4 linked regions of the Homo sapiens genome follow. The protein of the gene in region 1 purifies or fractionates together with the protein of each later gene. This does not show direct contact. Each region holds a gene or a part of one and is shown in the gene's direction. Other genes may lie near its edges.

What was found.
Region 2: the proteins of SLC18B1 (region 1) and BACH1 purify together in Homo sapiens (affinity purification with mass spectrometry; one large-scale study listed by BioGRID and IntAct). This does not show direct contact.
Region 3: the proteins of SLC18B1 (region 1) and AP1G1 purify together in Homo sapiens (affinity purification with mass spectrometry; one large-scale study listed by BioGRID and IntAct). This does not show direct contact.
Region 4: the proteins of SLC18B1 (region 1) and TMEM192 purify together in Homo sapiens (affinity purification with mass spectrometry; one large-scale study listed by BioGRID and IntAct). This does not show direct contact.

The regions. Positions count from the first base shown.
Region 1 is NC_000006.12:132,784,231-132,790,096, reverse strand, and holds part of SLC18B1 (MFS-type transporter SLC18B1), read left to right. Parts: intron 1-259; coding exon 260-333; intron 334-2,515; coding exon 2,516-2,663; intron 2,664-5,866. UniProt on the Homo sapiens protein: Proton-coupled polyamine antiporter involved in the translocation of polyamines from cytosol into secretory vesicles prior to their release via exocytosis.
Region 2 is NC_000021.9:29,305,422-29,308,921, forward strand, and holds part of BACH1 (transcription regulator protein BACH1), read left to right. Parts: intron 1-3,500. UniProt on the Homo sapiens protein: Transcriptional regulator that acts as a repressor or activator, depending on the context. Binds to NF-E2 DNA binding sites. Plays important roles in coordinating transcription activation and repression by MAFK.
Region 3 is NC_000016.10:71,798,835-71,802,334, reverse strand, and holds part of AP1G1 (AP-1 complex subunit gamma-1), read left to right. Parts: intron 1-3,500. UniProt on the Homo sapiens protein: Subunit of clathrin-associated adaptor protein complex 1 that plays a role in protein sorting in the late-Golgi/trans-Golgi network (TGN) and/or endosomes.
Region 4 is NC_000004.12:165,102,861-165,106,360, reverse strand, and holds part of TMEM192 (transmembrane protein 192), read left to right. Parts: intron 1-3,264; coding exon 3,265-3,411; intron 3,412-3,500.

The DNA.
Region 1 (5,866 bases):
CATTGATACAGAAATAGCCATCGTTATAGTTTTATAAATTGTGCCAGTGTTGACAGTTCTCTCCTCAGAGTTGATTGATTTTTAACTCTTTCCATGTTTTTAAGCAATGAGTACTGTCACCATATTAAAGAATTATTATAATATATTAACTGTACATGTCTTCCCCTATCCTATATTTGCCAATACAGTGGATTTGTTTATATCAATATAGACTTTCGGAAGTCATAAATTTACCACTCTTCTTTGACATTTATTATAGCTTGTACATATTGGAGCAAAATTTATGTTTGTAGCAGGAATGTTTGTCTCAGGAGGAGTTACAATTCTCTTTGGGTAAGTCATTTTCTGATTATATTTGGGAGCTTGAACAGATTTTGTAATGTATCTTCTGTTTAAATTGTTAAATACTCTTTAAGTCAATGGTTCCATTTATTGTCTGTCAAATGCATAGCATGTGACTAATGGCAGGAGTTGAGTAAGTAGAGAACAGGGATAAATGGCATTGATTTTAAGGAAACAGGCCTCCGGGGGATCTCCGTGATGCTTGCTACTGAACCTACTCATTAGAATTCCTGTGATTGTGAGTGACAGAAACTTAACTCACTTTTCTGAGTCACGGAAACTTACTAGCTTCAGTAAAAAAGTGAATTTCTTTAATAAAGTGTCAACTCAAAAAATATCAGAATACAGATTTGAAACGATGTCACGAGAAATTTTTCTTCTTGTGATTTGAACAAGCCCTCCCCTTTAGGTGGCAAGGGGACCCCTAGCAGCTTCAGTAGAAAGTGCCAGTTTCCTAATAGTTCCTATTAGAGTCACAGAATGAAGCCCCGCTGGCCTGACCTTTGCTGATGGCTGTAGCCATGGGGAAAGAATGTTCTGCTTGGCCAGGCCAGGTCACATGCTCAGTTCAGAGCATGGAACAAAATGGTTTCCCCCATTGCTACTTCCAGAAAAAGGAAAAATGAGTGCCAGAGGCAAAACAGATGTGAAAGTTCCAAATAATGTGGAAGAGCTTATATAAGTACATGGGGGAACATAGAGGAATACCAGTATAGTAAGATTATAATGAAGTAAACTGAAGAAAACTGTTATATTAAATGAAATGGGGTTAAAATTTTTTTGGAAGGGTCGTTTATTTTCTTTCTTTATTCCTTTTTTTTTTTTTTTTGAAGGTTTCAGTCTGACTACGGGAGAGATCGAAACTGGGTGCTTTCTTCTTTATAGGTCTTGTCAGAGTGATTCTACATGTTTTTTTTTTTTTTTTTCTTTTTGAGATGGAGTCTCACTCTATTGCCCAGGCTGGTGTGCAGTGGTGTGATCTCGCCTCACTGCAACCTCCACCTCCCAGGTTCAAGCCACTCTCTTGCCTCAACCTTCCAAATAGCTGGCATTACAGGGGCTCACCACCATGCTTAGCTAATTTTTGCACTTTTTTAGTAGAGATGGGATTTCGCCATGTTGGCCAGGCTGGTCTCGAACTCCTGACCTCAGGGGATACACCCACCTCAGCCTTCCAAAGTGCTAGAATTACAGGCGTGAGCCACCACACTCGGCTGATTCTACATATTCTAAAAAGGTTTATTTAGTACTATCATCTGGGGGACCAGTTATATCAGCAGAAAAGGGCAACTAAGCTGTCATTATGACTCAAATTGTTATCAAAAAAAGAAAAAGGTTAATTTCCTCCTACTGAAAAGACAACAAAGCAACTCTTTTAAAAAAAATCATATTCTAAAGCAATTTATTATAAAAATTATGGGTGAGGTACTATTCTTTTTAGTGAGTACAGTTAAAAAGGAAAAAAAAGAAAACAAGCTTGGCATTTGAGAATTGTCTTATTCCTTTTTAGTGTATTGGACCAAGTTACAGATGGGCCAGTATTTATTGCTATGTGTTTTCTTTTTCTTTTTTTTTTTTTCTTTTTCTTTTTTTTGAGACAGAGTCTCACTCTGTCGCCCAGGCTGGAGTGCAGTGGCACGATCTCGGCTCACTGCAAACTGCGCCGCCCAGGTTCATGCCATTCTCCTGCCTCAGCCTCCCGAGTAGCTGGAACTACAGGTGGCCACCACCACACCTGGCTAATTTTTTGTATTTTTAGTAGAGACGGGGTTTCACCGTGTTGGCCAGGATGGTCTCGATCTCCTGACTTCGTGATTTGCCTGCCTCAGCCTCCCAAAGTGCTGGGATTACAGGCGTGAGCCACTGCGCCCAGCTGATTCTACATATTCCAAAAAAGTTTATTTAGTGCTATTATCTGGGGGACCAGTTATATCAGCAGAAAAGGGCGACTAAGCTGTCATTATGACTCAAATGGTTACCAAAAAAAGAAAAAGGGTAATTTCCTCCTCCTGAAAAGACAACAAAGCAACTCTTTTAAAAAAATCATATTCTAAAGCGGTTTATTCTAAAAACCATGAGTGAGGTACTATTCTTTTTAGTGAGTACAGTTAAAAAGGAAAAAAAAAAAAAGAAAACCAGCTTGGCATTTCAGAATTGTCTTATTCCTTTTTAGTGTATTGGACCGAGTTCCAGATGGGCCAGTATTTATTGCTATGTGTTTTCTAGTGAGAGTAATGGATGCAGTTAGCTTTGCTGCAGCAATGACTGCATCTTCTTCTATCCTGGCAAAGGCTTTTCCAAATAACGTGGCTACGGTATTGGTATGTATTTTAGAAGTATTTCCCACTTTCCTTTGAGTGTAGGCCAAAATATTTGCCCTTCCAAGTTAAAGCTGGGGTCCATTCTTCTATACTTGCATTTCTCTACTCTCTGTATTATTGTTGCCTTTCACCCCGAGTTTGACTAGCAGCAAGCCTGTCAATAAATGTAACATTGGTTTCACTTAGGTGCTCTTCCTGGTTTTAGAATTCCCTGAATGGGCAGTTTGACAGGTAAATGTGGTCCAAATCAGTCGTTCTTTTTACCACTTAAAAAAAAAATTTTCCTTTGTAGTTTTTTTGCTGTCTCCCCGTAGCCTAGATTGTGGCTGAGCTGCCTGAAGCATTCCTCTGCTTTAGAAAAGAGTTATCCCTAGTGGCAAAATAATCAATTCATACTAAAGGCCTTCTTCCACTTTCCCCAGATTTATGCACGGGATCTTAGAAATCATCTCAAAGTCCTTAAGTGTTTCTGTGCTGTCTGTCTGAGGAGTGCTTTTGCATTTTGACATAAAAATCCAGATCCTGGTGGCATGATATTGACATGCGTTTTTGTGTACTGCCTAGATGCGTATAGACCTGGTATTAGTGACATATCAGATTCTCATCCCATCTCTAGGCAGCTGCCTCTCTGATCCCCAAGAAGGCTTTCCCCTCGTAGCTCTCTCTCTCTCTCTGGGCCCACGCACTTCATATCATAGTCGGTATGGCGCCCTTATAGCATGTAATTGTTCTCTTAGACTTCAGAGTCTAATCAGCTTAGTACCGAGGACTCCCTCATTTACTCATGTAACAATGTAGTTTGAAAATTTTTACCATCAGATAAACCCTTTGTGGTGTAAATAGTCCTTCCCCCCAACCTTTTTTTTTTTTTTTTTTTTGGAGTGGGGGATGGAGTCTCGCTCCGTAGCCCAGGCTGGAGTGCAGTGGAGCGATCTCGGCTCACTGCAAGCTCCGCCTCCCGGGTTCACGCTATTCTCTTGCCTCAGCCTCCCGAGTAGCTGGGACTACAGGCGCCCGCCACCACACCCGGCTACATTTTTTTTTGTATTTTTAGTAGAGACGGGGTTTCGCCATGTTAGCCAGGATGGTCTCGATCTCCTGACCTCGTGATCCACCTGCCTCAGCCTCCCAAAGTGCTAGGATTACAGGCGTGAGCCACCGTGCCCGGCACGTTCTTCCCACTTTTTATTAAGCATTTATGTATATAGCTGGATAGGTTTATGGTAGGTTCTATTGCCATTTGGCCGGCATACCATTTACATTTCCAGAAAATTTATTTCTCAGAAAGGGCTCAGAAGAACACCCGTCTGTTGATATGCTCATTAAGATAAGGGTTTATGGTTAAGCAAGTTTGGAGAGGGCTGTCTGCTGTCCTCTAACTTAGAGATGCCCAGTTCACATTAATGTCTTTAGACCTTGAAAATCCTGGAGTAGGGATACTTTATTAAATGTTCCACAACTCACTTTAACTATGGAACCATTTTTTTTCTTTCTTTTCTTTTTTCTTTTTTTCTTTCTTTTTTTTTTTTTTTTTTTGTAGAGACAGGGTCTTGCTGAGTTGCCCAGGCTGGTCTTGAACACCTGGCCTCAAGCAATCCTCCCACTTTGGCCTTCCAAGGTGGCTGGGATTACAAATGTGAGCCACCACACCTGGCTGTAACTATTTTTTCAAACAAGACTTGTTGATCTCTTAAAGAGCTGGTATTCTGTGGAACACTCTGGAAAGTGCCACTTAATAAATTCCTATGATAATGGTAACAATCCATTGGATTTTCTGATCAGCAAGAGACACCAATGTTGCTGTACCAAGTTTCTGTATAAAATTGCAGCCAACAGCTAACACACTAATGTGATAATTGATCTGGATGGCTTATTGTGATTAAAGAATTTCAATGTTCTTTATGAAGTTTTGAAAGTTATTAATGGTATATTTTTGTGTACTCTATAAGGTCTAAGGATATAAGGCTGCAAGCCACAGATCTCTGTTTAAGGTCCCTAAAAACTAGATTGATTTAAAATGTTGCAATATCTATAGTGGTAAACCCTTTTTTTCCATAGCATTGTTTTGTTTAACTTTAAACAGAATAATTTTATATGGTACAAAATTCAAAAGTTACAGAAGGGAACATAGAATATAGTAAATATATTCTACATATAACAGTTGCTCAGCCTTTGTATACACATCAGTTGTGCAGGTGCCCAGCCCTCCATCCCCTTAGGGGAAGGCAACAGATATTGCAGGTTTCTTGCAGAGAAATTCCACATATATATATGTACACACTGACACACACACACACACACACACACACACACACTGAGAGAGAGAGAGAGCACGAGAACAAGAGAGCATGATTTCCCTCCCCCTTTTTTCTTTTCCTTTTTTTTTTTTTTAACTGGACAGGACTATTGCAGTATCCCTCTTTTTTCTTTACACAAATGGTAGCAATACCATATGTACCATTCAGCACCTCACTGGTTACACCAACAATGAAATCATCTTGGAGATCTTCCTGTACCTACATATAAGGAGCTTTCTTACTCTTTACTGTTCTTACTGTCTGTATAGTATTTCACTGCGTGGATATAACCTGGTTTACTTACATCGTTGATGAATATTTAGATTATTTTCATCTTTTGCTATTGCAAAACTCTGCTATAGCACATAAGCTTGTATACATACCATGTCATATCTGCATGTCTAAACTTGTAAGTTAAATTCTTAGAAGTGGAATTCTGGGTCATAAGGTATGTGCCTCAATTTGCCAAATTGCCAAATTGCCAAATTGCCTACCGGTGTTCACTCACTAGCATAGAGTGTTCGATAGAGATAGGTGAAAATTGGTATCTTGTGGTTCAAATTTGCTCATTTCTTTTAAAAAGTGAGGGTGAACTTCTAAAAGATCTTTGTATTCCATCTATATGTCAATAATTTATAGCATTTGCCCATTTTTCTATGGGTTGTTTATCTTTTCCTCATTGTAGCTCTCATGATGTATTTGGGGAATTAGTTCTTTGTCATTTTTTTCTCTGTTCTTCATTTATCTTTTGATTTTTTTATGCATAGTTTTCGTATTTTCATGTAATCAGATTTGTCAATCTTTTTTATCTTCTGTGTTTTATGTCACAATTAGAATACCTTCCTTACAATAACAATTTTTTTAAAACTCCCATATTTTATTTTTCTAATATTTTTATGATTTCAA
Region 2 (3,500 bases), on another chromosome or scaffold:
AAGTATATTTTGTCTCTGAGGGCCTCCTGTCTTTGGACTAGTTTGTCTTTTTCCAGACCCCAGAAAGGCTGGGCCACCTTTTCTTCTTTGAGCAGGTTGGCAACAGTGGTCACAAATAGCAGAGGAGCTGAGATTCTAGAGAGCTATCCTACCACTGCTTCTCAGATGCCAGTGTGGAAACAGCCTCTTCTTTTTTGTTGAATTAGCTTGGAACAGCTCTCTAATCTCTGAAGAGTGAGGAAAAACTGTGTTTTTAAGTTTCAAGGCTAAGGCACTGTGTTCTCTTTTCTCCCTGTTCCTGCTGCTGTTCTCCCCCAACTCACATGAACGCATACTTAACTTTCAGTGTATGTGGACAGTAGGGTTGCTAAATTCATGTCAATATTTGTGGCATTCCTACATGTTAGGCATTTGGTTTACATTTAACTTATGAAACAAATGTTTAGGCTTTTATAAGCCAGGAACTTTTCCAGATATTGGCAATAATGAACTTTTCAGAAGTTACAGTCTAATAGACAGGCAAACTATTCCCATAGCATGCTATAGTAGCAACATGTAAAATGTGCTGTGGAACCACAGACTATTAAAAGCCTAAGTTTTGGGAAATCAAGAAAGCCTTAGGGATGTTTAGTGATGAATGCATAGGTTAGTGGAGGAAACAACTTGTATCAACTCAATTTGAGAAGCTTAGCTGTGAATAAGAGGAGAGAGAAATAGATTTTAGTAGGGAGAAGTTGGGTCAGGAAGAGTGTGTGTGTGTGTGTGTGTGTGTGTGTGTGTGTGTGTGTGTATTTAAAAATCCAGTCAATGGAAAAAGGTTGAAGATGCAGGCAACGTCCTTGTTTTGTCCTTGGCAAGTTCCTCTTATGGTTGCAAGATGGCTGCCACAAGTTCAAGTGTCACAAGAAAATATGACTTAAGTTTCCTGGAAGAAGACACACTTTTTTTTTTTTTTTCCTAGGTTGTTGCTATCAGTGAGAAAAATTTTTCCCTAAAGCCTCATAGCAGATGCTACCTTGTCCCTCTCTCCTCTCTTCATAGGTCAGCATTGCACACAAGCCAGTGCCTAAATGAGTCAAGGTCAAGGGGAATAGTACCGCTGTGATTGGCATAAATGGATCGTGATTCATCTTAGGTTGTGGCTGGGGTCTACTTCCTTGGAAGTTGATGGCCTCGGGTTGAGAGTAGATACGTGAGCACAGTCAGGGTTTGGTTAGAAAGTGAGGGGGTGAATGGTGTTGTGCAGTTAACAGTGACATCCTTGTCTACTAGTTCTGCCACCACTACACTTAGATACAAACTTCGGAGGAGAAAAAGAAAATGTGCTTGCCTTTGGATTTGGAATTTTAGGTGACTTTTTTTCCTCTTATATGCCATTTCCTTCTATGATCAAGTAGCACTTTTACAATCAAATCAAATCAATGGTTTATTTAAAAATTATTTAAAAATTGAAAATGCCAATTTTGTCAATAAATATATATAGAAGAAATAATTTTTTTTTTCAATGCTTTAAACATTTCAAAAGTTCCCTGCCATTGTCTTATTCCTTTCAGGGAGAGGAGAACATATAATTATATCTTGTAGTTTCTGATTATGTGTATACTAAGAGGACTACTCTGTCCCTCAGTCCATAGTGCACACCCACCTGTGGTCTCTATGGCTTGCACTGAGTGCTGAGGCCAGCCTGGCTCAGATAGAATTGTTAGTTCATTGGCTAGATGGGTCAGGATTCTTTAGAATGCAAATTCTTGAATCAGGAGTACAAACAGGAACATCTTCCCTTTTCTACACACTCATTCCCCTCCTCGAAGGGAAAGCTGTCCCGTAGTTAGCTTATTCGTCATTCTTTTCAGACTTTAAAATTAATGCCACCTTAAGTTTATACAGTATTCTTGTAGTACTCCTAACTTTTCTGTTTTGCTGTATGTGTACATTGTAGAAAGATTAAATCAAGCTAATTAACATGTCCATTACCTCACTTACCTTTGTGTGTGTGTGTGTGTGTGGTGAGAACCTTTAAATCTACTCTCTTAGCAATTTTGAAATACAGTAGGATCCCCACCCACTGTTTTACTTTCAGCAGTTTGTTACCTGTGGTCAGATGAAGTCCAAAAATATTAAATACAATAGATATTTTGAGAAAGAGACAAACATCACATTCACATAACTTTTATTACAGTATATGGTTATAATTGTTGTATTTTATTATTGTTAATCTCTTACTGTGCTTGATGAAAAAGCATAGTATATATATAGGGTTTGTTACTATCTGCAGTTTCAGGTATCCACTGGGGTTCTTGGAATGTATCCCCTGTAGATAAGGGGGACACCTGTGTATGTTGTTACAAGTATGATCACTGTGTAAAAGCACTTTTGTATTTCATTCTTGTTCCTTCTCAATCGCAGGTCTGGGTGCTTTCTGTGCTGTGAAAGGCAGACAAATAATGTAAATCCTAAACACTTGAGTGTTGTAAATTTACAAAATGAGAATTGCTCAATGGTTGTTTCTTTTTGAGAGTAACAAATAGACTGTGATAAATGGCCAGAGTAGGCTTCTGAACTGGTATTAGTTTTTTGGATAGAATTTAGAAAGACTTGTACTACCAATATAATTTTTGTCTCAGATAAATGCAATAGTATTTCCCTACTCAGTAGTTCCTCAGATGCTATTTAAACTGAGCTATATTTCAGCTTTATTTATAGGCTGCAAATTGTTCCTTATTTGGCTGAATCTTGTGGTTATGATATAATGAAAAGTAGTTACTGAGATCACTGGTGCAAATCTGTAGCTTGGAAATCCTCATTTTAGAAATGATTATTTTGACTCCCAAGTTAAATAGTAAAAAATAGACTTATGTTTTTAGTTTTAGCTATGTATATTGAGAAACTGTGGCCCTACGGTGGCTGTTAGGGATTAGTGGATTAGGTTGTTTTTAAATAAGACATTTCAGTTTAGTATCTCTACTTGAATAAAACAGTTTCAAATTTGTGATTCATATGATATACTGATTGCCCTACGGTAACTTCTGTTTTATTTAATTAAAATTGTTAACATTCTTTTTTATACTCTTAAGCACCTCCCTCCACCCTCACCCCCCTTTTTGACTCAAATTTTATTGTGAGTTGGTGTATAGTTAGGAATTTGAAGAGCACTTTTTTTGTTTATTTTATCTTTTCGGTTACTATGCATACTATGTGTGTCAACTCTTAAACCTGCAGGGGGTCATTTTGGCCATCAACTAGTTTTAGGGCTTTCGCCTCCTAAAGAATATGAATTATGGTTGTAATTTTTACAGTTTAAAAAACAAGATGGCATATGAAGAATCTTTATTTCATTATGAAAATAGAACATGGATGCTTAATCCTCTGTATTGAAAGTAACTTGTAGTGAAATACTTCCTAGTGTTCTCTTCTTCTAGTTGTCCATATGTAGTATGTATAACTATAGACCTTGATGATTTAAGTTGAGCACAGTTTAGTGTCAGGTTCCTTTCAGTGAT
Region 3 (3,500 bases), on another chromosome or scaffold:
AGACTGTGCCACTGCACTCCAGCCTGGGTGACAGAGATAGACTGTCTCAAAAAAAAGAGGTAAGTAAAAAACGCTTCTTTTGCTTCCTTTTAAGACTGAACACTTTTTCAGTTGTTTAGTTTTGAGGTTTAGTTAAATAGGTTCACTAACTTGAGCTGTAAAAACACTAATGGAACTCCTTTTACTTTGAGTTGTACAACTGTATAATCATTTATATAAGTTAGCTCTTTCAACCAAATACACATTGAGTATCTCTTATCTGAAATGCTTGAGACCAGAAATGTTTCATATTTTGGATTTTTTCAGATTTTGGAATATTTGCGTTACACCACTTGTACATCCCTAATCCTAAAATCCAAAATCTGAAACACTTGCAGAGCATTTTTTTCTTTTCTTTTTTTTTTTTTTTTTTGGTTACGGAGTCTCGCCCTGTCGCCCAGGCTGGAGTGCAGTGGCGCAATCTCGGCTCACTGCAAGCTCCGCCTCCCGGGTTCATGCCATTCTCCTGCCTCAGTCTCCAGAGTAGCTGGGACTGCAGGCGCCCGCCACCACGCCTGGCTAATTTTTTGTATTTTCAGTAGAGACGGGCTTTCACCATGTTAGCCAGGATGGTCGTGATCTCCTGACCTTGTGATCTGCCCGCCTCAGCCTCCCCTGCTGGGATAACAGGCGTGACCCACCGCGCCCGGCCTTGAAGAGCATTTCTTCAAGCATCATGTCAACAATCAAAAAATGTCAGGTTTTGGAGAATTTCAGATTTTGGATTAGGGATGTTTACCCTATAGTGTTTACCCTGTAGTGTTACATCATCTGTTCTATGACAGTCTTAATTTTAACCCCAAATTTTAACAGATTATGAATGAATTTACGCTTCAATATTTCTCTCAATGCTTAGTTAAGTACTGTACATACTCACGTAAGTGTACATAGGAATTTTTTGTTTTTACTAAAGAGAGATCATATTATTTATATTACTCTATGACACGCTTTTTTTTTTTTTTAACATGTCATGGTCAGTAAATATAATTCTTTTTTTTTGTTTGTTTGTTTTTTTTGAGATGGAGTCTTACCCTGTCACCCAGGTGGTGGGAATCTCCGCCTCCTGGGTTCAGTGATTCTCCTGCCTCAGACTTCAGAGTAGCTGGGATTATAGGCACCTGCCACCACACCCAGATAATTTTTGTATTTTTAGTAGAGATGAGGTTTCGCCATGTTGGCCTGGCTGGTATCAAACTCCTGACCTTAAGTGATCTGCCTGCCTTGGCCTCCCAAAGTGCTGGGATTACAGGCATGAGCCACCGCGCCCAGCCAATATAATTCATTTTTGTTTTGTTTTTTTGAGACGGAGTTTTGCTTTTGCTGCCCAGGCTGGAGTGCAATGGCGTGATCTCAGCTCACCGCAACCTCCGCCTCCCAGGTTCAAGTGATTCTCCTGCCTCAGCCTCCCGAGTAGTTGGGATTACAGACATGTGCCACCATGCCCCGCTAAGTTTGTATTTTTAGTAGAGATGGGGTTTCTTTCTTTTTTTTTTTTGAGACGGAGTCTCGCTGTGTTGCCCAGGCTGGAGTGCAGTGGCGCGATCCCAGCTCACTGCAAGTTCTGCCTCCCAGGTTCACGCCATTCTCCTGCGTCAGCCTCCCGAGTAGCTGGGACTACAGGCACCCACCACCACGCCTGGCTAATGTTCTGTATTTTTAGTAGAGATGGGGTTTCACCATGTTAGCCAGGATGGTCTCCATCTCCTGACCTCGTGATCTGCCCACCTTGGCCTCCCAAAGTGCTAGGATTAAAGGCGTGAGCCCCCGCACCCGACCCGAGACGGGGGGGTTTCTCCATGTTGGTCAGGCTGGTTTTGAACTCCCGACCTCACATGATCCTCCCACCTTGGCCTCCCAAAGTGCTAGGATTACAGGTGTGAGCCACCGTGCCTGGCCAATATAATTCTTTTTTTTTTTTTTTTTGAGATGGGGAGTCTTGCTCTATCACCCAGGCTAGAGTGCAGTGGTGCGATCTCGGCTCACTGCAAGCTCCACCTCCTGGGTTCACGCCATTCTCCTGCCTCAGCCTCCCGAGTAGCTGGGACTACAGGCGCCCACCACCACACCCGGCTAATTTTTTTGTATTTTTTTTTTTAGTAGAGACAGAGTTTCACCATGTTAACCAGGATGGTCTTGATCTCCTGACCTCGTGATCCACCTGCCTCGGCCTCCCAAAGTGCTGGGATTACAGGCGTGAGCCACCGTGCCCGGCAATATAATTCTTTATTATTATTTTTTTAAAAGATGACATTTTGCTATGTTGCTCAGGCTGATCTCGAACTCCTGGGCTTGAGCAATCTGCCTGCATCGGCCTCCCAAAGTGCTGGGGTTACAGGCGTGAGCCACCGCACCCAGCCAATATAATTTTTTATTATTATTATTATTATTATTATTTTTAAGATGGAACCTCGCTCTGTCACGAAGGCTGGAGTGCAGTGGCGCAGTCTCGGCTCACTGCATGCTCTGCTTCCTGGGTTCACGCCATTCTCCTGCATCAGCCTCCCGAGTAGCTGGGACTGCAGGCACCTGTCACCACACCCCGCTAATTTTCTGTATTTTTAGTAGAATTGGGTTTCACCATGTTAGCCAGGATGGTCTTGATCTCCTGACTTCATGATCCGCCTACCTTGGCCTCCCAAAGTGCTGGGATTACAGGTGTGAGCCACCGCTCCCAGCCTATTAGTTTTTTAATAAGAGATGAGATATAGCTGTATTGCTCAGGCTGGTCTCAAACTCCTGGACTTGAGCAGTCTGCCTCCTGTGGCCTCCCAAAGTGCTGAGATTACAGGTGTGAGCCACTGCACTCAGCCCACAGTAAATATAATTCTATCTTGTTCCTTTAAACAGTCCTATTGTGTCTTATAGCGTGGATGTACCATAATTTATTATTTTCCTGTGGACATTTAGATCATTTCTAGATTTTTGCCACTTAACAAAGTGCTACAATAAATATCCTTGTACATGCCGCCTTATATGCTGATGCTTTTATTTCTGTAGTCTCCAAAGGGGGAATTCTGGGTTAACAGAGAAATATATTTTAAATATTATTATTGCTAGATTACTCTCTAAATAGGTTATCATAATTTTCATCCCAAATAGCAGTAACTTCTCCATATCATGAAACCACTGGGTATAAATACATAGTTTAATTTTTACTAGTCTGCTAGATGATAAATGGGTCATGCAGTTTGTCTTAATTTTAACTTCCCTGTTACTGGGGCTAGCCTTATTTGATACGTATAATAGCCATTGGATTTCCTTTACCGAGAATTGTCTGCTCATGTCCTTGCTTCATTTTTCTTTCTCTTTTTTTTTCCTCCTGTAGGAGCGCTTATGGAATGTTAATTCTTTGTTATATGGCACGTGTATTTTTCTTGTCTTTCATTTATCCTTTTTTTTTTTCCTGGGAGACAGAGTCTCACCCTTGTCGCCCAGGCTAGAGTGCAGTGGTGTGATCTCGG
Region 4 (3,500 bases), on another chromosome or scaffold:
AGTGAAAGAGATTGCCAAGACCAGAAGACTGGAAGCTTCTAATAAAAGGCCATGAGAAATGGGAGGGCCTGGACTAAGATAGTGAGAATAGAGAGGAAATAACAGGTTTAGGAGTTAGAATGGTAATGATTTTTTCTCTTTTTATCATGCCCCAGCACTGAGTGGATAGAATGGTAATGATTATAGGGGTAGTGTCTTTGTTTGGGTTGCTATAGTAAAATACAAATAGGGTAATTTACAAATAGAAATGTATTGACCACAGTTCTAGAGGACAGGAAGTCCAAGATTAAGGCAGCCACGGATTCAGGAAGCCCAAGATCAAGGTGCCAAGAGCCCTGGGGAGGGGTTGCTCTCTGCTTCAAAGATGGCGCCTTCTTGCTGCATCCTCACGCAGTGGAAGGTGGAAGGGAGCTCATTCAAGCCTCTTTTATAAGGGCACTGATCTCATTTATGAGGGGGGGAACCCTCATGGCTTAATTACTTCCCAAAGGAAAGCAGGGAACTATTGGGGGACACCAACATTTAGACCATAGCGGGGTGCAAGTCAAAAGTAAGAGTTAATAAAAAGGCCAAGTGTGGTGGCTCACACCTGTAATCCTAGCACACTGGGAGTGCACTTGGGAGGATTGCTTGAGGCTAAGAGTTCAAGACCAACCTGGCCAACATAGCGAGACCCTGTTGATTTTTATTTTAAAATTTAAAAAATATTAAAAAGAGAAAAGAGTTAATAAAGAAATAATAGTGGCTAATACTTATTGAGTGCTCTCTGTGCGTCAGGCAGTGTCATGAGGACTTGCATGTGTAGTGACTCATTTAGTATTCCTGACAGAGCTACGAAGCAGGTGCTATTATTAGTCTCCTTTTTAGATGTGGAAACTGAGGCATGAGAGATGAAGTAACTTGCTCTCAGCTAGAAAGCGGTAAAACTTGTGCTTGAATCCAGGCAGTTTGCCCTTAGGAGCCTGACCTTAACCACAGCTCTTACTGCCTTTGGTCACAGTTGATCCCCCGTATGTCCTGATAATCTCTTCTAATTAGCCCAGGTCTTTGATGATGCCCATAATTGAATTAGAAAATACTGCAGAAACAGGTTTGGGGCACTCATTCATTCATCTAGCAAATGTTTGCTGAGTGACAACCATGAGATAGTGTTGAGTGCTGGGATTACAAAGACAAGAGGTGTAAAGGTAATGGGTCCAATGACGTCTAGTGGAGAAGAGATAAGTAAGAGACCATCACAGGATAGTTTGATAGAAGAGGCAAGCACAGAATGCTTTGAAAAACATGGAGGGTGGCACAATCCAGATTAGGGGTATCCAGAAAGGCCCTGTGGTGGGAATTGCCCCTTCTGAGCATGAAAGAATGCACAGACATTAGCTAAGGGAAGAGCAGATCTCAAGGCTCCAACATCTGCTGACTGAGAATGAGCTAGAGGCAGAGGGGTCTTGAAGAGAACAGGAGTAATCTGAATTGTACCATGAGTTATGGTAAACTAAACAGGAAGCAATCTAGGCATTGAATAAAAGACTTGGCCAGGCGCGGTGGCTCATGCCTGTAATCCCAGCACTTTGGGAGGCTGAGGCAGGCGGATCACCTGGGGTTGGGAGTTTGAGACCAGTTTGGCTAACATGGCGAAACCCCATCTCTACTAAAAATACAAAAATTAGCCGGGCATAGTGGCGCGTGCCTTTAATCCTAGCTACTCAGGAGGCTGAGACAGGAGAATCGATTGAACCCAGGGGGCAGAAGTTGCAATGAGCCGAGATTGAGCCACTGCACTCCAGCCTCGGCGACAGAGCGAGATTCCATCTCAAAAACAAACAAACAAACAAAACAACAAAAACAGTTGCAGAGCAGTGTTGAATACCTGCTACTGGAAATTGAGGAGCCCACTCCAGAGCTAGGTTACACCCTAGATTACTGTCCTTATCTTTGTAATCTTAGCAATCAACAGCCATCTCTTACATCATTTGTCCTACTACCTACTTCCAAAATAAAGAGCTCTCATTCTGTGTAGCCAAAACCTATTCATGAATCCTTCATTTCTGTCTCATTGTAGTGCAGTTAGCTGACCTAAATTTTTTGGCATTGTCTTCTATGCTTTTCATTTGCTGATTTGTTATGTGCTTCCCATGAACCATATTCTTTTTTTCTTTTTTTTAACATGTGATGAGAACACTTAAGATCTACACTCTTAGCAAATTAAAAGTATATACAATGCAGTATATATCCATATTTTTGAGACGAAGTCTCTCTGTCGCCCAGGCTGGAGTGCAGTGGCGCAATCTCGGCTCACTGCAACCTCCACCTCCTGGGTCCAAGTGATTCTCCTGCCTCAGCCTCCCGAGTAGCTGGAATTGCAGCTTGCGGCCAAGAGTTCAAGACTAGCCTGGGGCCGGGCACTGTGGCTAATGCCTGTAATCCCACCACTTTGGGAGGCCGAGGTGGGTAGATCACCTGAGGTCAGGAGTTTGAGACCAGCATGGCCAACACAGTGAAACCCTCCCTCTACTGAAAATACAAAAATTAGCTGGATGTGTGCCGGGCACGGTGGCTCATGCCTGTAATCCCAGCACTTTGGGAGGCCGAGGCAGGCGGATCACCTGAGGTCAGGAGTTCGCGACCAGCCTGACCAACATAGAGAAACCCCATCTCTACTAAAAATTAAAAATAAAAAATTAGCCGGGTGTGGTGGTGCATGCCTGTAATCCCAGCTACCCCAGGAGGCTGAGGCAGGAGAATTGCTGGAACCCGGGAGGTGGAGGTTTCGGCGAGCCAAGGTTGTGCCAGTGCACTCCAGCCTGGGCAACAAGAGTGAAACTCTATCTCAAAAAAAAAAAAAAAAAAAATTAGCTGGGTGTGGTGGTGCACACCTGTAGTCCCAGCTACTCAGGAGGCTGAGGCAGGAGAATTGCTCGAACCTGGGAGGCAGAGGTTGCAGTGAGCCAAGATTGCGCCGCTGCACTCCAGCCTGGGCAACAGAGCGAGACTGTCTCAAAAACAAAAAACAAAACACAAACAAACAAGACCAGCCTGGGCAACATAGTGAGACCGTGTTGCTACAGTTTTTAAAAAATTAATTAATTTTTTAATTAATTAAATTAAATTAATAATTAATTTTTAAAAAATTGGATTCAGGTAGGCAATGTGTTCTCTTGCCTTTAATTTGTATGTGGTTAAAAAGCTCTGTAGTTTAGTAGATTTGTCTTAGAAACATAATCTAGAAAGTGGTGATTATAGGTTGCTTGTTTTTCTGCACCCCAGGGTTCCTTGGATATCACCCAGAGTATTGAAGACGACCCACTTCTGGATGCCCAGCTTCTCCCACACCACTCATTACAAGCTCACTTTAGACCCCGATTCCATCCTCTTCCTACAGTCATCATAGTGAATCTTCTGTGGTTTATTCATGTAAGTTGGCTGCAAGAAGGGGACCTATCCAGAGGTGATGTTTGTAAAAATTATATAAGTGTTTCAGAGGGCAGTTGTGCTGTATCTAT